7 linked regions of the Homo sapiens genome follow. The protein of the gene in region 3 purifies or fractionates together with the protein of the main gene of each other region. This does not show direct contact. Each region holds a gene or a part of one and is shown on either strand. Other genes may lie near its edges. The genes, in order: REC8, ERF, XAB2, SF3A1, EFTUD2, RRP1B and NPTN.

Region 1 (2,838 bases), on a different chromosome or scaffold from region 3:
TAGATGTGGCTCCCGAGCTTCTGCGTATCTGCAGCCTCATTCTGGCTGACAACAAGATCCCACCAGGTGAGGGTAGGAGTCATAGGCAGGGGCTTGCGGGAGGCTGGGAGTGGCAGGGCTCAGAGAGCCTGGGGCAGCGAGGCTTTAGGAGCCCCGACCTTTCTCCCTCCCTCTCCACCCAGACACCAAGGCCGCACTGTTGCTGCTCCTGACGTTCCTGGCCAAACAGCACACCGACAGCTTTCAAGCAGCTCTGGGCTCACTGCCTGTTGACAAGGCTCAGGAGCTCCAGGCTGTACTGGGCCTCTCCTAGACTGCAGGCTGCAGCCAGTCCAGAGAGAATAGAGCCTGCCCAGGCCTTAAGACCACCTCTCAGCCCAGTTCAGTTCTGCCTTACCAAAGATTCTGAGACTCATACCCATTTGGAGCCAGCCCCACTTGCTGCCTTACAGGGCTGTCCCTGAGGCTGGATCTGTTACAAATGAGTCATGACATCATACTGTAATAAAAGCAGCTTGTTTTCTGCTTGAACAATAGCTCTGAGAGCAAGAAGGCTGGAAATGCACATTCAGAAATGAGGTAAGCAGGACCCAGTGAGGCACGACGTGGTTTACTAGAAGTGGCCGGTTTCCTGGCAGCTTTGTAAATGGACTCTAACCTCAGTGGAATCTGGGCCCCGGCTGGATCAGGAGGCGACCATATGGCTTTTCTTGTTTCACGTGAAGAATCTGTTGCGCTGAGAGCACTGGTCAAGAGGCGAGGAGAGGGCAGGTCGGGGGAGTCCCTGTACGGGCCTCTGGTCTCTGTGTCCCTGCCCCACATACACACACACACATGCATACACTCACCCAGGAGCAGGTAGAAGACCCGGGCAGCCATCCTGCGGGGGCTGAGAGGTGACACCAGGCTGCTGAAGTCGGGCTCCCTGTTAGCCTGCAGCTCCAGTGCCACTGCCCTATAGGGATCAAGAACCATTAGCAGAGGCTTCAGCCCGGGTCCACCCCATCAAGGTGCCACCTCCCTGGTACCTGTGCACTGCTTCCAGTGAGAGCAGCTCGAGCTCTGGGGGCAGCACCAAAGGCATCTCCATGGGCACCTCAGGGAGTTCAGGCACCACGGGCAATGCAGGAGCTTCTGGCGCCTCCACCTCAGGCCAGGCCCTAGGAGGACATGAGAGAGTAGGGAAGGTGGCAGCTGTGACAGTGACAAGGGGCATACCCATCCCAGCAGCTGTTTCCACCACCTGGCCAAGGGCTGTGGGCCCTGGCTCCCACGGAGCCTGGCCGCTTACCACCGTTCTTCTGGTGGGATGAGGCTGATGCGGGACTTCTCCTCTTCAGCTGCCTCTAGGGAGATCTCTGTTGGGGGAGGAAAGGCGCTAGTGGGTGTCTGCTTGGGTGGCAGTTAGGGCCTTGTGGCCACCTGGTGTAAGTAGATGGCAGAGCCGTGCGGTGACTTGTTAAAAGCACATAGGTGGGAGAGCTGAGGAGGACCAGTCCGTGCTTCCTTATGTCACACACACACGCCTTCACTCATAAAACAGCTTCAGCAGTTGGGATACTAGTTTCCTGGGACAGTGGTTAGGGTGTGGTCCCACTGCGCCTCTTCTCTAGGTGCTTACCTAAAGACACCATAAGGGGAACACTGGGCTCCAGGGCCTCCCTCGGGACCTGGGGATGGGAGAAGTAGAACTAAGACCCCAAGCATCTGGGACTTGGGCCTCAGAAGGCACAAGGCCAGTGAGCCTGTGCTGTTGGCTCTCATAGCAGGAGAGGGCAGCCAGCTGGTCAGGCAGACCCTGGCACTGGGGCGATGCAGTAAACAGGTGGTGCAGTTACCTCAATCTCACTTGGAACTTCAATCTTTCTCCTTTCCTCCTCAGCGGCTGCCTCCTCAGGCAGCTCTCGCCTGAGGGCTTTTGGGGGTGGCTGGGCACAATGGGTCCAGAGACCCAGTAGTTCAGGGGGTAGCCAGCCAGCTGTGGACAAGAGGGTAGTAGGCACGGGGTTTGAGGCGTGAGGAGCACCAGGAATGAGGAATTGGTTTTGAGGATACTTCGTGCCCAACCCCCACCATTCTTACAGAGAGTTGGGGTTCTGAACAACTCCGCAGGGCCTCTGATGGTCCTCTCGGGCGGCTGCACCATAGGCTGTGTAGTGGGGGAAGGTCAGAAGCCCCATTATAAAGCAGCCACTCCTCAGGGCCCCTTTGCCTCTTTGCAATGCACTGTTCTGGGGCTTCTGGACTTCCCCAGCTTTTGCGCTCATGACCCTGCCTGCCCTGCTCATTGCTAAAAGAAGGACTTTTTAACCTGGTGCCCATGGGTATGACAGGTGGGTCACTAAAGGAGCATGAAGAGTTGTATATGTGCAAACCCACATCGCCTGCATTTTCTGGAGAATGGAGGAGATTTTTCATCAAGTTCCCAATCCTCCCCCCACCCACCTGAGGAGTTTGGAAGGCTCAGCCTGCATGTGCCCCTGGTCATCCCTGCCTCCCTCCCTTCCCCGGCAAAGCCTGGGCTGCACTCACACATTCCCAGCAGTGGGCTCTGGTTTGCAGTTGTTCCTGGAATTTCTCCGGGGAGATCTGAGTCTCCTTGTCCCAGAACAGTAACCGGCGACGACGGCGGCGGCGAGGAGGTGGGGGGACTGGGGGCCTCCTCTGTTGAGTGGGGAGGGCAGGTAGGGGCAAGGCTGCCCATTACTCCTTTTCCTGTCATTCTGGTGGACTGCTAACAGGACCCCACACCCGCCCCTAGAGGAACCTGGAGAGGGCTTGTGCGGGGTCTCCATGCACTTGAGCAGCTCATACCTTGCATAAGGGTACCCATCTGGG
Region 2 (2,530 bases), about 35 Mb from region 3:
ACCTTGTGATCTGGATTCTCTAGAAGGGTGAGGATAATGGGTTGAACACCTAGATTCCCAAGAGAGCGATGGTGCTCTGGGGTCTCTGGAAGGGGTTGTCAAAGGCTGTCACTTTTAAATGGAACAGGGGCTGTTGGTGCTGGTCTGTGAACAGCTGGAGGTCATATCCCTGGCACCCTGAGGGGCTGGTGGAAGGCTGGGATATATCTGAATGGGGCAGGGACTCCGGGGGCTATGTGGTACTGCAGCCCAGTCTGGGCAGGAGTTGGGGGCCTACAGTGAGCTCTGGATTTGGAGGGGGTGGTCCCTGTGGGAGCAGGAACTACTGATTCCCTGGATTCCCAAGGGGAAGGATCCCTTGTTGGATTCCAGACTTGGGTGGAGTCTTTGAGGGTGGATGTGTTGCCTGGAGGCCTTGTTGGTACCTGTTTGAGCTGGGGCCAAGGGAGGCGGATTGACCCCTGCAGCCTGACTGGATTTGGGAGCCGCCCATCTTTAGCTGGCCACCTTGGCCTTCTCTCTCTAGTGGCACCAGGGACCCTGCTCTGCCTCCCCACTCCTTCCCTTCCTCCCCTTTCCCTCCTCCCACCCCTCCATTACCGGCTGCCTGGTGCTGAATTATTGATGGCCCCTGTTGTTGGGAAATGACAACAACCGCAGTCCCCCCACCCCCCACCCCCCACCCCAGGCTGCCCACCCCCTCCAGAGACCAGCCAGCCCACCGCCAACCTCTACCCAAGGTTAATGCTGGGGGTGGGCAGGCAGGTGGGCAGGGAAGGAGCTGAAGATGAGAAGGCAGAAGTGGGAAGAGGGTGACAGCTCCAGGGTGCCTGCTCAAGCTCCAGGCCTGGGCTGGGCCCTCCAGCCAGGTGGGGCCTGGATGCCTGGGTCTGGGGAGGGCAGTGTAGCTCAGAGGGTCCAGGGCTTGGGGGGCCTCTCAGACAGTCTGGGTTTCACTCTCCAGGGAAGACAGAAGCCTCTGTGTGTGCAAGCGCTGACCTCATCGGCAACCGAGTCACCCCACCCCTCCTGGTCCTTTTAAGAAAAAAAAAAAAAATCTTCCTCTCAGGTCTTGGGGTTGGGAGTAGGGGCTCTGTTGGGTCTTCGGAGGAGACAGTGCATGTTTCTAAGGAGGACATCCGAGGAGCTGGGGTGGTGCAACTGGCTCTGAATGGGAGTGGGGGTAAGCTGGGGGGCTGTACCCCAACCCGGCTGGCCACGTGTGCCCCTTCCTGCCCCTCCCCCACTGGCAGCCCTGCCCGCCAGCCTGGCTTGGTGCCTGGCCCCCTGGCACTGGCCCCGGGACCCACCGCCGACGGTTTCCTGTTTCTCCCGGTGTCGCTGGAGCGGGCTCCAGCTTCCCCTCCCCCCCAGCTCCTGTCTAGCCCCTCACATGCAGACAGACAGACACGCACTGTCTTCTCTTAAATCAGATCTTGACTTGGCTGAGGTGAGACAGATTTCCCCATGTTGAAGGCAGGGCAGAGGTGGACCCTGGGATGGGACCCAGAGCCCTGGACTTGGCAGCCTGACCCCAGGCCACTCCCTGCCTCCCGTCCCCAGGGTTTGCCTTCCCGGATTGGGCCTACAAGCCAGAGTCGTCCCCTGGCTCAAGGCAGATCCAGCTGTGGCACTTTATCCTGGAGCTGCTGCGGAAGGAGGAGTACCAGGGCGTCATTGCCTGGCAGGGGGACTACGGGGAATTCGTCATCAAAGACCCTGATGAGGTGGCCCGGCTGTGGGGCGTTCGCAAGTGCAAGCCCCAGATGAATTACGACAAGCTGAGCCGGGCCCTGCGGTGAGGACGGGCTGGGGACCCCTGAGCACATGTGGAGTGCCCCCCCGGGGTTGCACAGCCCCTTGCCTGTGGGAACAAGCATTGGGTCTGACCCCTGGCTTTGCCAAATCCTAGCTGTGTGACCTTGGGCCACTCCCAGCCCTTCCCTGAGCCCCTTGGTAACACAGACGTATCCTGAGGAGAGATTACAGTCACCAGTGGATCCTCTAGTCCTGCCTTAGATGTGAGGAGAGAGCTGGTACCCACCCTCTGGGCACTTGATTTGTCTTTTGTGGCCTACGTTCCTCAGTTGGCCTTTGGGAACCACACCTAAGTGCGTGTTAAGGTGTGGAGTCTAGACCTGGGTCCCACGTACCTGACCTTCCCAATGGCATTTCTGTACCCACAGCTATTACTATAACAAGCGCATTCTGCACAAGACCAAGGGGAAACGGTTCACCTACAAGTTCAATTTCAACAAACTGGTGCTGGTCAATTACCCATTCATTGATGTGGGGTTGGCTGGTGAGTACCAGGGATGGTTGGTGTGGAGAGGGTCTACATGCCCCTTCAGGCTAGGCCAGGGGCCTTGACACTGTCTCCCTTCTGCCAGGGGGTGCAGTGCCCCAGAGTGCCCCGCCAGTGCCGTCGGGTGGTAGCCACTTCCGCTTCCCTCCCTCAACGCCCTCCGAGGTGCTGTCCCCCACCGAGGACCCCCGCTCACCACCAGCCTGCTCTTCATCTTCATCTTCC
Region 3 (3,500 bases):
AACCCAAAAAGTCCACAGCTGGTCTAGTCAGGACTGAGGCTGGACCAGTGGAGCCAAGGCAGGACCCACAGGGGGTTGAGCCTAACCCAGTGGGGCCAAGGCTAGACCAGTAGGAACCGGGCTGGACCAGTGGGGCTGAGGCTGGTTTGACAGGGCTTGCTTTTGCCCAAGACACTCATAAATGGGTGGGGGGGGACGCCCCGAAGCCACTGAATCGGGAGGTGGGCGTAGCCCTGCCACCCCACTGACTGCCTGAGGGGTGGCTCGGTCCCCAGCTGAGTCCTGAGAGTGCAGAGGAGTACATTGAGTACCTCAAGTCAAGTGACCGGCTGGATGAGGCCGCCCAGCGCCTGGCCACCGTGGTGAACGACGAGCGTTTCGTGTCTAAGGCCGGCAAGTCCAACTACCAGGTGGGCCTGCCGGGAGCCGGCAACTGGGTGGGAGGGCCACCCCCTCCATGACTGAGCCTGAGACTCTCCCCCACTGCCCCATGCCCTGCAGCTGTGGCACGAGCTGTGCGACCTCATCTCCCAGAATCCGGACAAGGTACAGTCCCTCAATGTGGACGCCATCATCCGCGGGGGCCTCACCCGCTTCACCGACCAGCTGGGCAAGCTCTGGTGTTCTCTCGCCGACTACTACATCCGCAGCGGCCATTTCGAGAAGGTGCATGCTGGCACACGGGGCTCTGGGTTCGGGGCGGGGTCTCCCTCCGACACTCGGGGACACATGTTGACACATGCACAGGCAGAAAACATGCCATTTATGGCTGGGTGTGGTGGCTCACACCTGTCATCCCAGCACTTTGGGAGGCCGAGGCGGTAGGATCACTTGAGGTCAGCAGTTCAAGACCAGCCTGGCCAACATGGTGAAACCCCATCACTACTAAAAATACAAAAATTAGTCAGACATGGTGGTGCGCGCCTGTAATCCCAGCTACTCGGGAGGCTGAGGCAGGAGAATCGCTTGAACTTGGGAGGTGGAGGTTGCCGTGAGCTGCGATCGCGCCACGGAAGTCCAGCCTGGGTGGCAGAGCGAGACTCCATCTCAAAAAAAAAAAAAAAAAAAAAAAGTGCCATTTTTGACAGACATGCATATCCCTGCACACGATTACTATCCTGCTGAGGGTGGGGGAGCACTCCTGCCCGCAGGCACGTCAGCCTTGGAGTCAGCCACATTTGCGTTCAGGGTTCACCCTCTGGCTCTGCGGCCTTGGCCCCACTAAGGTGGGGTGTCTTCATTTGTAAAATCAGGGTGACAGTTACTGCCTGTCACCAATCAGCTCAGTGACGCAGGCACAGCACTGAGGAGGTACGTGGTGTGAGGGCCACTCCCTCAGGGGTTAGCTGACTGTGGCTCTTGGCAGGCAGTGGAGTGGCAAGCTCAGGGGATGGCCTGGGGGCAGGTGGGTGCAGAGGGGGCCAGAGCCGAGAGCGGGGAGGCTCAGGAACCCAGGGAAGATAGGTTGGGAGCCTCGAAAGCCAAACGGGCTGGCCATGCTCCTGGCTGGGGGAGCCGCCAGTGGGGTGTGGGCGGTATGCGCTTCGCAGCGCCCCTTCCAGGGGCACGTGTAGGCCAAGGCTGTCGGAGGCAGCAGGGCAAGACCCGTCAGGGCTGGGTAGAGAGAGGGGACCTGAGCTGGGGTGGGCGAGCCAGGTGGAGGACAGGCGGGCTGGGGAAGAGGGTCAGGCAAGCGAGAGGGACGCTTTGGAGCAAATTCTGAGGCCTCGGAGGATGAGCTGAGGCGAGGGTCCCTGCAGGGTGGACCCATAGGCGCTGGGGGGTTTTTGGCCACCTATTGGGTGCCAAGTGCTTCACACATGTGTCTCAGTCGAGCCCTGAGGTCACTGTGTGCAAAGGGCAGTCACCCAGTTTACTGAGGAGGTCCTGAAGCTCCCAAGACCACCCTGGCAGTGCAGGGCAGGGCGGGGGTGAGAAGGCTCCACGGAGGCTCTGTCCTGGGGTCACTACCCAGAGGTGCTGGATGCGTCACTACCCAGAAGGCCCCCAGGGGTTCCACATTGAGGCTGGTGCTAAGAGTGCTGCTGCCTGTCCCCTGCGCCACTTTCCTCTCACCTCCCCTTCCCTGGGTCCCCACAGGCTCGGGACGTGTACGAGGAGGCCATCCGGACAGTGATGACCGTGCGGGACTTCACACAGGTGTTTGACAGCTACGCCCAGTTCGAGGAGAGCATGATCGCTGCAAAGATGGAGACCGCCTCGGAGCTGGGGCGCGAGGAGGAGGGTGAGCCTCTGGGGGCCCCGGCTGGTGGGGAGAGAGCTGAGTGGACATTAGCGGTAGGGGCGGGACACATCTCAGGTGAGGCAGCCCTGGGAGGCTCAGCTGGGGGCCAGCAGGGAAGGAGGCTGAGTGGATGCAGGGGGTGTGGGGGTCTTGAAGGAGCCAGGAATGGGGACACTTCTCAGGCCTGGGCCAGAGCCTGGCAGGGCAGGAGGGCTAGGGGAACAGTGGGGGTAGGAGGGGGTATCCACAGTACCTGGGGCTGGGGGTGGGGCTCAGGTGGACACCCGAGCTGAGTGTCTAGGGCCCAGAGCACTTGGCTGGGGGCTGGAGCGGAGTGAGGGTGGGGAGTGGAGGCGGTGGCATCCGGGGACCTGCATCCTGGGTCTCCGCCCCTGACAAACATGTTCGCGGCTCCCAGATGATGTGGACCTGGAGCTGCGCCTGGCCCGCTTCGAGCAGCTCATCAGCCGGCGGCCCCTGCTCCTCAACAGCGTCTTGCTGCGCCAAAACCCACACCACGTGCACGAGTGGCACAAGCGTGTCGCCCTGCACCAGGGCCGCCCCCGGGAGGTACATGAAGCCTGCCCCAGTCCTACCCCTGAGGGCCAGTTTCCTGCAGAACTGGGGAGCCACCCACCTTCACCCATAATGTCACCTTCTAGGGGCCTGACTTTGCTTAGTAGGTCCAATTCCACCCCTGTTCTTGGGGTTCTCCTCCTGCCCGAGCCCCGCCCCTCAGAGCCACAGTCCCTCCTGGCCCCACCCCTTGGAGGGCCACAGCTCCCTCGTGGCCCCGCCCCTTGGAGGGTCACAGCTCTCTCCTGGCCCCGCCCCTTAGGGCCACAGCTCTCTCTTGGTCCTGACCATTGTCAAGGGCCATAGTTCGTTTCTGGCCTCTCCCGACAGGGGCCACAGCACCCTCCAGGCCCCACCCCTCAGAGCCACAGCTCTGCCCCGACCGTCATCTGCAGGGTCCTGAGTCCTATATGACCTCCTCCCTCCTGTCCCCAGATCATCAACACCTACACAGAGGCTGTGCAGACGGTGGACCCCTTCAAGGCCACAGGCAAGCCCCACACTCTGTGGGTGGCGTTTGCCAAGTTTTATGAGGACAACGGACAGCTGGACGATGTGAGCACCCTGTTGCGTGTGCCTGTGTGTTCATGCATGTGTGTGTGCTTGTATATGTGTGCATGTATGTGTGTGTACATATTTGTGCATGGATGTGTGCACGTGTGTGTGCATGTGCATTTGG
Region 4 (3,500 bases), on a different chromosome or scaffold from region 3:
GAGCTCATGGTACTCCAGCCATCAATGCTCTCCTTCTAAACAGCCACAGGAAGCCCTTCCAGCTAAAGCCAGAGCTTGCTCTGGGATGTCAACAGGCACATGGCATCTCCTTCAGTGTCTGCCTTTGGGGAATTTCTATGGGGAGTTCTTCTGGAAAGTGGGGAGTTCTCTTGCAATATCATAGAGTGCAACTCTCCTCAAAAGCTTTTGTTGACCTCAATTGTTGCTTTCTATGTTTGCTTAGAAGAAGATGGCTGTAATTCGGAGACTACCATGGGCTCTCCTGGAACCCCCACCTCACCTGGTGCGTACACCTCATCATCGCTCTGCTTCTCACGGATGGAGCGATCCCGCTGCTCCAGCCAGCGAGGGTCAAGAAGTCCAATGCGCATGTGTTCCTGCATTTTGCTGGCGGGGATCTTCTCCCCAGTAATGGGGGACACAAGATACTCATCTGGAGCAGGGGCTGGAGGCAAGGGCTTGGAGGCTAAAAGGAAACAGATGTTTCAGTAAGAACACTGGTGGGCAGCCACCTGAGTTAAGAGGGTGGTATTTCATGCGTGCATCATTCATCAAGGCATCTATTCAGTGCCACTCTTGTACCTGGCACTGTGAAAGGCACTAGGGCACCAGAGATGACTGGGCCCTGTTCCCACCATGAAACCTGTAACAGACGGGCTTGCAATGCTTTTACAATAAGCTGCACCTCAAGCCCTCCTAGAAAGACGGGTGTGAGGAACACATGAGGGCACACAGGACTTCCTGGGCAGCCCGAGGGTTGGGAAGCAGGCCCTCCCTACCTTTGGGATCATAATCCTTGCGGACAATGACTTGGTCTGGAGTTGGGGGCAGAGGTGGAGGCATGGGTGTCTCTGGGGGTGGGGGCACTTTCTGCCCTTCTTCTTCATCATCTGAACCCTGAAAAGCAAAGCAATGGCAGGACTCAGAGAGGGGCTGAGGCCACCTCCCTGTAGCTGAGCCTGGCAGGTCTCTGGGTGGCAAGGAGCCTTGGCCTCTGCCAGCCAGCGTCCATGTGCTAAGCCTCCCAGGGCAGCTGAGGCCAGCCGGCAGCAGGCCAAGCTGCTTCCTCACAGCATGAATGGGAGTGCTGAGGCCACGGTCCTAGCACTCCTCCCAGGCATTTCCAGCAGCTGGCACCAGGCAGTCCCAAGAGGCCAAGGGCACTTAACATGCCGGGGGGGGACAGTGCCAAGGGGGCGAGGGGTGGGGGCGGCGAGTCGCCAATCAATGGTAGCTGCTCACACAGCAATGCTGGGAGGGAGAGAAAAAGTCATTTCCCACAGACAGGGGCCCTTTCTTCTCAGGCTGTGCACAAATTATTTCCGAGTGGGGGAGAACAGTCTGGTTCTGGAGACTCCATGCCTGCTTAGAGGGCCTGGCTTGAAGGGGGTAGGGATGCCTGAAAGGAAGCGTGGGCTACATTTAGAAAAGCTCTGGGAGCTTGGAGCCCAGCTGAGAGCTCAAAACAGAACAGGGTAATGCAGTGAGTTCCCTGAGGGCTGGCACGAGGCAGTGAGAGCAGGCTGTCCGGGCCAGGGAGGCGGCCACAGAACAGGTCAGCACAGCTTTTAGATCCTTGCCTATGAATGAATCTTTGTTGCCGGAGCTGGAAAGAGGCTCTGTGCTGCCTGGACTTGGGCAGCTGTATGGCCTTGTTCAGGACCCACGCCTCCTTTCAAGGCTCACAGGGGAGCTGGATCTGACTGGTGGAGAGCACTTCGACCTCCTGGGGCTTCAGGGGAAAAGGTCATCCTGCAGGCCTGCCCAGCAGCTTACCTCATCCATATCTTGTACTTGGGTGTCCTGGTCCAGCTGGGAAGGAGGCTCCTCCGCCTTCTCCTGTTTGTCATCCTCCTCATCAGACTCGACCTCCATCTCAACTTCCTCACTCTCCCCAAACTTTTCATAGCGCTCCTGAATGAGGATTCGGGCCCCCAGCTCCTCTGGCGTGGTGGGGGGAGGGAAGTTCCCTAGAGGGTGAGCCAGAGGCAAAGGTATTCCTTATCAAAGACCCACCTATTTGCCCTGTCTGAGCTCCCCAAGGGCTGGGGCCATGTCTGTTTTCTCTCCAGCTATCTCCAGAGGCCCATCTAGGGTCTGGCAAGTACGTATTGAATCTAAGTTGGGCAAAGTGGTAGAACTGAAGTCTTTTGGGAGCAGGGAGGAGACAGCACTGATAAAGCCCTCTGAGAGATTCTACTGCTCTCTGGGAACACCTGCACCAGGTTTCCCGGGAAGTCTGAGTTCCTGGCTCCCCATCTGGAGTCACTCCTCACAGACCTACCTTGCTCATTGGGTTGGAAGTCCACTGTTTCCACCACCACAAAATCATGCCAGTCGATCTGAGCATAGGCCACCCGCTCCTTCTCCTTCTCCTCTTCTTCCTTCTTCCTCTCACGTTCCTGGAATTTGGCCCATTCCACTCGGTAACACACCTGCAGAGATGGGAAACAGCTTGGTGCTACGCTGAAGCAGGGTCTGCTCCTGATGAGGCTACCACCTCCAGGGCTTTCATCAAAGTCAGCGCCTCCTTCGGAACAGAATGGAAGTATGGTTCCAAACTATGGCATTTGCACCTGGTTCCACCCAGGTGCAGAGTTGGGACAGAATGAAAATTCCACCCTCTGATCTGCTTGGGAGCTGGCCTTCTGTCTTCTAGCTAGAGTGGAAAAGAGGGAGATATATTGAGGCTGAGAGCAAAGCAGAAAGTTGTGGTATGTTGGGAAGCATCCGGACTCCAGGTTTCTTTGGCCTTTGTAGCCAACAAAGCCTTTTCTCCCACCATTCCCATGACTGGAACATAACAAGGTCCTGCCTCAGAGACTGTTTTCAGACATAAAACAGAACCAACCACCAGTAACTGGTTGCAAGAAATGCTATTCAGTTTACCTGATCCAAAACTTCTCGGGGGTTTTCAGCCTCTTTCTTGAGCTTTGAAAATAAACCTTTGGGTGGAATCAAGATCTGAAATACAGAAGAGTTAAAGCAACTGTCAGTGCTTTACAACGCAGTACAAAGAGGCAGCCTTCCTGGGCCTGTGATAAAGCACAGGAGATGAGGAAGCATGGGATTCTGTGTCCCAATCCCAGCTCCACTTGGCTGTGGGACTTAGGGCAAGTTACTTAACCTCAGTAACTTGATTTCCTTCTCCAAAATAATGGCACCACCACTCAAAGTTGGCACCATGAACTTAAAAAGGTGGCTTCGAGGATTAGCAGGAAAGCATGCAAAGCACTAGCCGATTACCCAGAACACGGTCAGTATGAGACGGCTGCTTTCATGACACTGACCTGCTCTCATCCTTTCAAAAACACTACGCAGGTCCCCCCTGACTATCCTATTCAGAACCGCAGCGTACTTGCCCCACCTCCCTCTATTTCTGCTCCCTGCTTTCTCTCTGTAGTATTTAGCACCATGTAACAGACACTGACAATGCACTTGACTCCTCCTCACTAGACTAGAAACTCCATGAAGACAGG
Region 5 (2,499 bases), on a different chromosome or scaffold from region 3:
AAACTCCATCTCAAAAAAATAATAATAAGTAATAAATTTAGGAATAAAATAAATAAGAAGAGTCCTGCTTCTGGGCCTGAATCTTCTGGGAATTCTGCCTGGGCCATCTGAAATTCCTTTGCCTTTTAGATTGTGCCTGGTGATCCCCTGGACAAGAGCATTGTCATCCGCCCCTTGGAGCCACAGCCAGCTCCTCACCTGGCCCGGGAATTCATGATCAAAACCCGCCGTAGGAAGGTATGTCTCCCTTGGGCCTGTTGCCATCCCTCAACCCCCCAGGACTCTCAGAAGCAGGATCTCTCTCTCTTTCTTTTGGCCCCTTTTCCTAAGGGACACTTTTCCAATGTAGAGATATGATCTGTATACTCCTTAGGCAACCAAACCTGGGCCCCAGTCTCGTTGGGAAAGGAGAGCCTTATCCTCCCATGTGATAGTACCCTAAAGGCAGGGCTCCTGAAACACCACCACCTACATTCCAGCCACCACTAGCCTCCCCACTGAACACAGGTCTTGGATAGTCTCCTTGCTTAGTCTGCGACCACCTCGGGCTTTCTTATATTTGCCCCATTCCCTGCAGGGCCTCAGTGAAGATGTGAGCATCAGCAAATTCTTCGATGATCCTATGTTGCTGGAACTTGCCAAACAGGATGTTGTGCTCAATTACCCCATGTGAGTGCGTGGACTCCTGGGAGCTCCTGCTCCCTACAGTGGGCTGCAACTCCTGTACTTGAAGCTGAGACCTCATATGACGTGGCCTTCGTGTTGTCAGAGAGTGTCTGGAAGCTGCTGTTGCCATCTTGAACAACTCACCAACCTCCAACCCAGAGCCCCAGTGAGAGAGGAGCATTTGGCCTCCTGCTTCCTTCTGTGGCCTCTGCCGGGCTCCATTCCCAAGGAAAAGAGAGGAGCTTGGGCTCACAGAAAGAGAAGGGGATGAAACCCCAAGGGGCCCTATCTTTGGGATTTACATGGAATTTTATTTTCTACAAGTTTGACCTTAGCCATGGTTTGCAAGTGAACAGAACATTCTGACCTCTGTCTTGCTCTGCTCCTTTCATCCTCGTCTCCCCTGCCCCGTCTGGTGCTTACATTCTGAATATATGTCATCTCCCAAGAGGCTTCACTGCCTCTGCTTCCAGCTGCAGCCTCCTTCCTGCCTGGGTCCCCAGGGAAGCCGCCTGCCTTTTAATTCAGTGTTCCCATGAGCGCCAAGGCCCCATTATTGCCCCCTTGCTCCCACTCCATGCTGCTTCTGGGTGGAACCTAAGATGGCTTGGGAGTTGTTGGGTTCCTGCGATCAGAAGTCTACCCCACCACCTCCTCAGGAAACTGCTGCCTCCCCTAAGAATCTTCCTTGCCCTGGAGTAGGGGGCCAGAGCACTTTGATTTCCAGCCATTTACTCCAAGTCCTCTCCCCAGCTACCACCAGTCCCTTACTCTGTTCTCCCCCAGTGAAAAAGAGTCTGTTGATTTTCCTCAAAACTGCTTTATTAGGAATGTACCAGGGATTGAGTTAGGGGAGTTGGACAGCCCCGGCTCCTATAGGAGTCCTACTTCTCTCCAGCATCCTGTGCCATCCTCTTGACGTAATCGCTGTACATTGTGTACACAGCACCTGTGTGAGAGAAAAGAAATAATGCCCCTTGGCATCAAACCCTTCACCCGTCCTCTGGCTCTCAGGCGTCCTAGGGGTTCACCTCTAGCTGCTCCCTTGAGAGTCCAGCTTCCCGCTCATCTTTCTGCCCCAGGTCCCAACAGCTGCTTCAAGCATCTGACCACACAACCTGGGGAAACCACTTATCTGACAGTTCACGAAACACTTTCACATGTATTGTGTATCTGAGAAACCTCACAGCAGCCTGCAAGGTAGGCAGGCCAGGGGTGGTTATTGTCATGTTACACATCAGGAAACTGAGGCTCAGTGAGAAAGATTTGTCCACTGTCACACAGTTAGCAAGTGGCTGTCTGCTTTTTAATCTCAAGAGGAAGAGAAATTCAACATCTGTTCTGTTGCATGATTTTTCTCACCCCTAGGGCAAACTGTCATGAGACACTGTCCCCACAGGCCTGGGACAGGAGCCTAAACAGGGAAGATGGCTCAGTATAGGGGCTTCACCAAGCATGTGATGTGGAGCCCAGAACAGGAGAACTTAATTCACAGTCCTTTTTTTTTTTTTTTTTTTTTTTTGAGACAGAGTCTCACTCTGTCACCCGGGCTGGAGTGCAGTGGCGGATCTCAGCCCACTGTAGCCTCCGCCTCCCAGGTTCAAGCAATTCTCCTGCCGAAGCCTCCAGAGTAGCTGGGACTAAAGGCACCTGCCGCCACGCCCAGCTAATTTTTGTATTTTTAGTAGATATGGGGTTTCACCATGTTGGCCAGGATGGTCTCTCTCTCCAGACCTCATGATCTGCCCGCCTTGGCCTCCCAAAGTGTTGAGATTACAGGCGTGAACCACCGCGCCCAGCCAAGCACAGTCCTTTTAATTGTTGGGACTTAAA
Region 6 (3,500 bases), on a different chromosome or scaffold from region 3:
TGGACAGGCTCAGAGGGCCACAGTGGGGCTCCAGGCCCGGCATGGGAAGCACTGTCAGCTCAAGCCCATCTGTGCCCTTGTGGTGAAATGTGCTGTGCCACTCTGGGGAGGGTGCGTACCTGGACGGCAGGGCCTGGAGGGTGGGTGGCAGTGCTGCTCTTGGCTCTTCTGAAGAACAGGGGCTTTGGTAAGAAGGGGGTGTCAAACTTCACAAAGTCGCTCTCTGCCCTCAGCTTCTGCTTCTTCAGGGAACTGCAAGTCCCACTGCTTCCCTACGTGAGCGAGGGGTGAGAAGCGGAGGAGGGGTCAGACGACAGAGCCTCCTGTGCTGCCCACACACACAGGAGGGGAAGGCAGAGCCCCAGGCAGATCCAGCCCACCCGACGGCCCGCGGTCTTCCGCACCGCACTTGCAGACAGCCCTTCCATTCGGCAGAGCTCAGGCTTCACGCACAACACGACCGCTATCATGGCACCATGCCAAGAGGGGCGATGAAAACGCCTCGTCAGAGTAAGGACCCACTTTTATCTTCATCTTCAAAATGGGGATTTTGGCCTTTCAAAGCCGATCTGTTAATAAGATCGACTCTCCCATTTGTAGCTGAATCGTCACTGCGCTGGCAGTCTGGTGTGGAGGACAGTGATGCCCATGTGGGGCTGTGGGTCCCTCACAGGCAGGCCCAGGACACTCATTGCGTGTGCAGCAACTGACAGCCACCCAGAGAGAGACCGGGTCTCGTACTTGGCTCTCAGAGGTGTGGGCAGCCCAGTGCCGCTGCCGACACACGGGTGGCTCCGGCAGGTTCAAGTGTGCCGCCTGGAGGGCAGGGAAGCCCGAGGAGCTTCTCCTGTGCGCCTTCCCTGTGCCATGACAGATGGCAGGGGAAAGCTTCCCTTGACCCTGGGACTTATTGAGCAACACCCCATCCTCTTTACAATAGGCTGCCAGGGGCCTGAGACGACAGCAAGAAAGGCAATGTCTCTGGCCCTCTTAGTGAGGGAGCAGCGCTGAGGGTACGAGGGGCAGGCTGCAGTCCAGGGAGGAGATGGCGGCACTGTGAGGTAGGAGAGACTCGAGGCTAGAAATGGGCCTCCTGCCGTCCAGCTCAGTGCACTGCTGCCCCTGGGTAAGGCTTTCCTGACCATAAACTCACTCACTAGCCACTTGCAGACACTCTTAGCCCCAAACCAGCGCTTCACCAGGTCCACACATGTCCACTTAAACAAGAGATGTCATAATCTCCGCAAAGCGGTGTGTGCAAACCAAGAGGTGACCAAGGTGCGCAAACTCTGTGAAGGGCAGAGTTATTTTCTGCTTTACAGACCGCAGGTCTCTGTCTCTACCACTCCCCTCTGCCGCTGCAGCATGAAAGTGGCCACAGACCTGCACATACAAGTGGATGTGGCTCTGTTGCAGTGACACTACGTTTGCCGGCCCTGGCCTGGAAGCCCAGGGCGCCCAGAGGTGGTGTGAAAAGCGGATCAGGGCCAGGCGCGGGGGCTCTCGCCTGTAATCCCGCACTTTGGGAGGCCGAGGCAGGTGGACTGCTTGAGCCCAGCCTGGGCAACAAGGCAAAACTCTGTCTCTACAAAAATAACAAAAATTAGCTGGGCATGGTGATGTGTATCTGTAATTCCAGCTACTTGGGAGGCAGAGGCAGAAGAATCGCTTGAACCTGGGAGGTGGAGGTTGCAGTGAGCCGAGATTGTGCCACCGCACTCCAGCCTGGGTGACACAGCCAGACCCAAGACCAGATCAACAGCTTGGTTCCTCATTTATATCTGGCTCTAGAAATCAAAGTGGAAGGAAAGTCTTTCCATTAAGAAGATAAGTGGTCCTGCTAGTGAAGTTTCTTGAGCTGGGGGGTAGGGGGGAAGCTAAGAAAAGAAAAGAATATAGAAAAGAAGGTGAGTGAAGCAAGAGAATTTTGGGCTTCCTCTTTTGCCAAAGGGGCCTGGACTGGCCATGCGCTGATGAAGAAAACCAGACCTGCCTTTGACAGAGGCCTAGACTGGCCTGAACACGCCTGGGGCAGGAGTGCCTGGCCCAAGGGATAACTTTCCCAGCTTGGAGTGGGCCCTCCCGAACCCAAGCATGTGGCCTAAGGGAGTGAAGGTGGCCGATGAGGAGGACCGAAGTACTGGTCACCTGTGATTTCCTCCTTAGTGAAGGCTGTTATGAACACACCCTATTCTAACTGCTGCTGAGTCCAGAGGCCTGGCCGCCAGCCCCCACCCTTCCTCTCAGGAGGCAGTGGAGCCCCATGGACGCGAGTGAGTGCCTCTGTGGCGAGCTGGCCTGTGGGTGCTCCCACCTTACCAGAGCCTGGGGTTGCCCAGCTTCGGACTCCAGCACCCCGTTGTGCTCCACCAAGTTTGACATCACTCTCATTTTCTTCCTCTTTTTCAAACTTGCTGTTTTCTGGCTGGGCAGGCCACAGAGCTCCAGGCTGCCGGGCCCTGCCTTCTTTTTCTGCAGCCTCCTGCGCTGGGGCAGCGTGGTGTGGCTGTTCGCCCCCTCTGCGGGGCCTGTGGGAGGGCCTTCCTGCTGCAATGGAGGCCAGGCCGGCGTGGACAGGCCACTGCCATTGACGGGCACAACTCCAAGTTTCCGCTTCCTTTTTAGGAGTTGGGCTCCACCTGTCGGGGACCCTCTAGGTCCCTGAGGATGACTGCCACTCGGGCCACTCTGAGACATGTCCTCTGGGGGCAACACTGCTGATTCCAACATTTCCCTGTGGGCCCTCGGGCTCTTCTTCCGTGGCCGTTTCCTTTTATTGTGCATGGGGACGGCTGGAGGATGCTCGGAGCCACTCTCCTCCCCAGTGCTGGACGTGGCCTCTGCACCTGGCTCGGCCACACGTGCCTTCAGGGCTTTCAGCCCAGAGGCCTCGGGCTCCCTGCCCCGGTTCTGTTCCAGGGATGGGGCTGCACCCCCTGGGCCTGGATTTTCAGGCTGCAGGTGGTGCTTCTTCTTCTTCTTCCTTCTTCTCTTTTGAAGACTGCTTTCACTGTCCTCTTCCTCTACACAAAAGACTCTGCTTCCTAAAAAGACAGAAACCCATCAACAAGCACCCAGTGCCAGCTGGGCCAGAGTCCTGCTGGCGATTCTCAGACAGTATGACTGGCGGACGCAATTTCCTGACATTCTACCACGAGGAAAGTTCCTGTCTCCCTTGAGGTACTTGGTGCGCCCACTACCTTTGTCGTCTGGTCCCACTTCCTCCATCCCCAACTGTGACTGGAAGCCTTCCTTCTGTCCGTTTATAAACACATATGGAACTGAAATAGTCCCATTTCCACTAATTTTAGGGCTCAAGGGTAAAAACCATAGATCTCGAGTGGTCATCAAACAGCCGCCCCCCAGTGCTCCCTGCAGCTCCTGCTTCCCTGCAGAGGTGCCCTGGAGAGCAGGCGGACGTGAGCGGGGTGAGGTGGGGACGCGGCTCCACCAAAAACAGCACAACACTTGGAAAACCGCCTTTACCTCTCAGCCATTAA
Region 7 (4,125 bases), on a different chromosome or scaffold from region 3:
AAATTCTTCATTTTAGGAATAATGAAACAAATGCCTTTTGAAAAACATCTATATTCAATCTAAACTACTACATTCCCAATTCAGAGATACTTGTGAGTTTTTTTCTCCAGTCATTTAAATAGAAAATCTAACATTTCTAACATTTCAACATCATGCACAAGCAAGGTATCCCTTTTTGAAAGCACTGTAAGAAAACACAAACTCCATGACATGAAGTCAGATCACTGCAGGGCTATTTATTACCAGCTGAAAGCTTGAATATTATAATAAGACATGTTATATAGAAAGCTATAAAATGGCATCCATAACTATAGGAACTCAAACTCAAAAATAGCCATCTCTTCCTTGAATTAAATTTACATTCATTTGGGTCAACCAGCAGCTCAGCTTCATTTCATCGGTCATGTCATGTGACTGAATTCAAGCTCATTTCAAGGGAAAGGCCGTTCTATGCTGTATTTAGAACACATATCACTGAGCAGACAGATGAGTCTTTATAGGCCTATCCAGAAACCTTGCTTTAGTTGCTAAGAAACTACAATTTTACCGTATTATAAATCATTGGAAAAAAGCTAAGCCAGCAGAGATTAAACATGTTAAGATCAAGAATCTCTCACCTATTGTGCAAAATGAAACTATGCTATTACCATAAACTGAATAGCTAAAATTAGCATTAGGCTTCTTTAAGTCATGTTGACACAGTCGAAAAACTGATAAGACAAATAAGACTAACTCTACCCTGCCTTCCACAGTGGACTCATGCTTAGAGGAAAACAGGAAAAATACCCAATACACTTAGCATATTCAATGCTAGAGACAGAAAAAATGTTTCCTTCCTGACCCCTGCAGTGATATCCAAGGCCATGAAGCACACATAAAATTTGGTACTACGAACACATATTTAACTGATGGATATTGTCAATCCTTTATTCGTTTTAGGAATAATGAAACAAACTCTAACATTCAGCATTTTAAACCCAGTTTCTCAAAAAACTCCACTGGCTCTATCACTGATTTTTTAAAATTTAAATTGCAGCCTCTCTAATAAGAGTAATCATAAATTGTTCTGGCCTAACAATAAACAATGAAAGATTAGCAAAAATAATTTATAGTTCACTCTCCAGTACTGACTTCTCATAAATTCCTTCACAGAAAAAATATTCTTTAACCTCTTAATGGCTGTTTCCACAAGGGCAGAAACAGGTTCACAATCCTAGACTCACTTGTGAAAGATCAATTCAGCAGCTGAATGCTAACACATGTCTTCAATCAGAATCTGCTCTGTTTAGGTCCCTATGCCCATGATTCCCCACCACTTCTCCATCTTCTCAAAGGAGCTTCAATTCAAAACCCAGTAATTCTCTGCTTTCTACTGTACCACCTCCCAGGGGCCACTTTCATGTTCCTCGGAAATAACGTCTCTTCTGTCTTGAAACTTTTAAATCTCAAAAATCCACTTCCCCATCTCCCTGTCGCCAGTCACTGCCCTCAATCCCACCACTGCAATTAGTTGCAGCTATGTGTCCCTGTTTTCCCAAAGGCCCGACCAATATCATACAGCATTTGCCACATCCCAACTCCTCCCTTCCCTAATTTATCCTCCACACTGCAAACCAACATTACACCCCCGACTTCCTGCATTTTACTCCCTTCCCTTATTTTTCGTCTTCCCCCACCCCCATCTCTATACCCAGGCCTCCTTACTTCTCTAATAAATATTCCCCCACCTCAGTTCCAACCCTTTCCCTCCATCCTCTGCTCATTTTCCTCTCCTTATTTAGAAACTCCTTTTTGCTCTCCCAACCACTACCCTAGAATGCCCAGCACTCCACCCTCTTTAGCAAACCCAGCCCTCTTCCCCCAGCTCATTTGGAGACACTGCTGCTTCTCTCTCCAGGTCCCCTACTGCAGTCAACCCACTCCCTCATCTTCCCACCCACCTTCCCTCTATCCCTAGATCCAAGGTTCCCTGATTCTTTACCCCCTCCTTTGGTCTCTAGTACTCAGCTCACCATTAGTGTTCCTCAGGACTCTCTTCCCCCCAATTTCCCCCTTATTTTTAAGGATGTCACCAGTCCTACGGGGCCTCAGTAGAATCCTGGACGACCCCAGCTCCCGGGGGGCCTGACGGACACCACCATCCCCGTCGCCCGGAACACAAACGCCGGTCTTGTGCCACCCTCCCTAAGAGCTGCGCCCCCTCCTCATCCGCCCCCGCTACTCCAGCTCCCCACGTCGGCTTCCTCCGTGTCCCCTCGCCGACCCGGCACGACGAGCCCCACGACGTGGAGCCTCCGAGTGGGCAACACCTCGGGCTCACCCCGGACGCCCCCGCCGCTCGGATAGGAGCCTCCGGTCCTCACACCCGCGCCTCCTCAAACCCGCAGCCGGTACCTCCTCTCGGACCCGCAGCCCCTCAGACGCCCACTCGGCCCCCTTCCCCGAGCTCCAGCGTCTCCTCAGGCCAGAGCCGGGCCCCCTCCGGCCCCGGCGCCCCTCAACCCCCGCCCGGCCCGCCCCCGGCGCCCCGCTTACCGTTCTGAGCGGCGCCTGGCCCTGGGAGGAGGGAGCCAGAGACCAGCAACAGCGAGAGGGCCAGGGCGCTGGGCAGCGACGAACCCGACATCCTCCCTAGCAGAAGACCCAACAGCGAATGGGCCGGGGCCAGAGCCGGGGCCGGGGAAGGGAGGGGAGGGAGGGAGGGGGCGGGCGAGTGCGCGAGGGAGTGAGCGAGGGAGGCAGCCGCGGCTCGGCTCCGTCCTTCCCCGTCCTCCTCCTGCCGCCGCAGCGCCCAGGCCTCGCGAGACCTTCGCTCCGGGTCGTGGGCGGCTGAGGAGCGACCGCCGCAAGGATCGCGAGAAGAGGCGGCTCCGACGGAGACTCCCGCCCCGCGGACTCGGTGGCCCCGCCCCTGCAGAGGCTGATTGGCCTAGCGCGAGGTAGGTCACGTGCCGAGGGCGCCTCTGGCCATGTGACGGGGCGAGGCGGGACTCCGCTAGCTCTCTGGGCAGTGGGGAGCTGGGAAGTCCTTCAGTTTACTCCTCTGTGGCCCGGGAGCACCCATAAATAAGAGGAAGCTTTGGAACACAGTACATTTCCTCCACCCATCCTGCCTTTCATTTGTTAGCGCTCTTGGCTACAGAGTTTCATACACCGTGCCTCCTTTCCTCCTTCCTCTCTTTGTCCCCGTCCTGCTGTTTCTTCCTTCTGGACTTTGAACATAGACCTCTACTGGTAACTGGCTCCAACCTCCTTCTCTCATCTGCTGTTTTTTCCTTCCAGGAAAAGTGGTGCGCCCCCTGTGCCCCCGTTACCTTGTGCTTTCCTGCCTGGACATCTGCTCCCTTTGCCTGAAATGTCCTCCTTTGCCGCCTCTGCCTACTCCCCCTCCCACCCCACATCTGGGCCTTATTTTAGCTTCATAGACTCTCAGGGCCTGAAGTTCAGCTAGCCTAATTGCATGTTCATTGACACAATTCTACAAGGAAGTCGTGTATGAACTTACATGAAGACTCCTAAGAAGCGTCTTAATGCGGAAAACATTTATTGAGAACGTGCTGTGTGCCAGGCACATAGTGAAACCCACATGAAAAGGTAGTCCCCGTCCTCATGGAGTGCACTGCCTAGGCTAGCAGAGGAGTGAGGAAGGGTCAAATGGCCCCATAGGAAAGGATCTAGCAAAGCACTCTGGAGGGTGATTGGCAGTGTGGTTACTACTGTTTGCATAGAAGTTTGGGAAATGCTCTTTTTAGGGGTATTTTTTGTACTACCCTCAGGGCTTGTGGTTGGCAAAGGAATTTCTATGGCTTAGCTCATCCCTGACTCACAGCAGACGTCCTGGGAGTGTCTGTGGAAACTCTGAGGGGCCAAGTAAACAGTCCTGGTGGCCTGACTTGATTTAAAGAGAGGGTTTGGAGGACCTGGAAGAAGGAGACCCTCGCAATCTCTATCAAGCTAAAGTGGTCTGGAACTTTCAACAGGAACTGAACAGCTGGTGGTTCCAGACCAAAATTTCTAGCAAAGGCCAGGACCACTATGGCATGTTGTTGATTGAAGTGAAAACTATGTCCTTCAAAACCTCAGGTGTGTGAGTGACAAAAAGATTGGCATGTACCTTCATCTGGA

What was found.
Region 1: the proteins of XAB2 (region 3) and REC8 purify together in Homo sapiens (affinity purification with mass spectrometry; one large-scale study listed by BioGRID and IntAct). This does not show direct contact.
Region 2: the proteins of XAB2 (region 3) and ERF purify together in Homo sapiens (co-immunoprecipitation; one large-scale study listed by IntAct). This does not show direct contact.
Region 4: the proteins of XAB2 (region 3) and SF3A1 fractionate together in Homo sapiens (co-fractionation; 3 studies listed by BioGRID and IntAct, with this or other methods). This does not show direct contact.
Region 5: the proteins of XAB2 (region 3) and EFTUD2 purify together in Homo sapiens (affinity purification with mass spectrometry; 2 studies listed by BioGRID and IntAct, with this or other methods). This does not show direct contact.
Region 6: the proteins of XAB2 (region 3) and RRP1B purify together in Homo sapiens (co-immunoprecipitation; one large-scale study listed by IntAct). This does not show direct contact.
Region 7: the proteins of XAB2 (region 3) and NPTN purify together in Homo sapiens (co-immunoprecipitation; one large-scale study listed by IntAct). This does not show direct contact.

Annotation. Positions count from the first base shown.
Region 1 is NC_000014.9:24,177,917-24,180,754, reverse strand, and holds the end of REC8 (meiotic recombination protein REC8 homolog), read right to left. Parts: coding exon of another isoform or gene 2,815-2,838; exon of another isoform or gene 2,665-2,814; coding exon 2,533-2,664; intron 2,150-2,532; coding exon 2,083-2,149; intron 1,979-2,082; coding exon 1,839-1,978; intron 1,671-1,838; coding exon 1,622-1,670; intron 1,359-1,621; coding exon 1,292-1,358; intron 1,161-1,291; coding exon 1,029-1,160; intron 956-1,028; coding exon 849-955; coding exon of another isoform or gene 746-848; coding exon 660-745; downstream 1-659. Other genes in the region: IPO4 (importin-4), read left to right, coding at 1-66, 183-313. UniProt on the Homo sapiens protein: Required during meiosis for separation of sister chromatids and homologous chromosomes.
Region 2 is NC_000019.10:42,249,599-42,252,128, reverse strand, and holds part of ERF (ETS domain-containing transcription factor ERF), read left to right. Parts: intron 1-688; exon of another isoform or gene 689-740; intron 741-964; exon of another isoform or gene 965-1,183; intron 1,184-1,563; coding exon 1,564-1,798; intron 1,799-2,186; coding exon 2,187-2,302; intron 2,303-2,390; coding exon 2,391-2,530. UniProt on the Homo sapiens protein: Potent transcriptional repressor that binds to the H1 element of the Ets2 promoter. May regulate other genes involved in cellular proliferation.
Region 3 is NC_000019.10:7,623,046-7,626,545, reverse strand, and holds part of XAB2 (pre-mRNA-splicing factor SYF1), read left to right. Parts: intron 1-275; coding exon 276-410; intron 411-501; coding exon 502-666; intron 667-2,100; coding exon 2,101-2,245; intron 2,246-2,663; coding exon 2,664-2,815; intron 2,816-3,256; coding exon 3,257-3,376; intron 3,377-3,500. UniProt on the Homo sapiens protein: Involved in pre-mRNA splicing as component of the spliceosome. Involved in transcription-coupled repair (TCR), transcription and pre-mRNA splicing.
Region 4 is NC_000022.11:30,339,895-30,343,394, forward strand, and holds part of SF3A1 (splicing factor 3A subunit 1), read right to left. Parts: intron 2,986-3,500; coding exon 2,911-2,985; intron 2,457-2,910; coding exon 2,306-2,456; intron 1,992-2,305; coding exon 1,798-1,991; intron 919-1,797; coding exon 801-918; intron 488-800; coding exon 302-487; intron 1-301. UniProt on the Homo sapiens protein: Component of the 17S U2 SnRNP complex of the spliceosome, a large ribonucleoprotein complex that removes introns from transcribed pre-mRNAs.
Region 5 is NC_000017.11:44,849,448-44,851,946, reverse strand, and holds the end of EFTUD2 (116 kDa U5 small nuclear ribonucleoprotein component), read left to right. Parts: intron 1-129; coding exon 130-237; intron 238-577; coding exon 578-673; 3' UTR 674-1,550; coding exon of another isoform or gene 1,551-1,615; 3' UTR 1,616-1,999; downstream 2,000-2,499. Other genes in the region: HIGD1B (HIG1 domain family member 1B), read right to left, coding at 1,551-1,615. UniProt on the Homo sapiens protein: Required for pre-mRNA splicing as component of the spliceosome, including pre-catalytic, catalytic and post-catalytic spliceosomal complexes. Component of the U5 snRNP and the U4/U6-U5 tri-snRNP complex, a building block of the spliceosome.
Region 6 is NC_000021.9:43,687,060-43,690,559, reverse strand, and holds part of RRP1B (ribosomal RNA processing protein 1 homolog B), read right to left. Parts: intron 3,045-3,500; coding exon 2,320-3,044; intron 273-2,319; coding exon 120-272; intron 1-119. UniProt on the Homo sapiens protein: Positively regulates DNA damage-induced apoptosis by acting as a transcriptional coactivator of proapoptotic target genes of the transcriptional activator E2F1.
Region 7 is NC_000015.10:73,630,590-73,634,714, forward strand, and holds the start of NPTN (neuroplastin isoform b precursor), read right to left. Parts: upstream 2,801-4,125; 5' UTR 2,627-2,800; coding exon 2,536-2,626; intron 1-2,535. UniProt on the Homo sapiens protein: Probable homophilic and heterophilic cell adhesion molecule involved in long term potentiation at hippocampal excitatory synapses through activation of p38MAPK. May also regulate neurite outgrowth by activating the FGFR1 signaling pathway.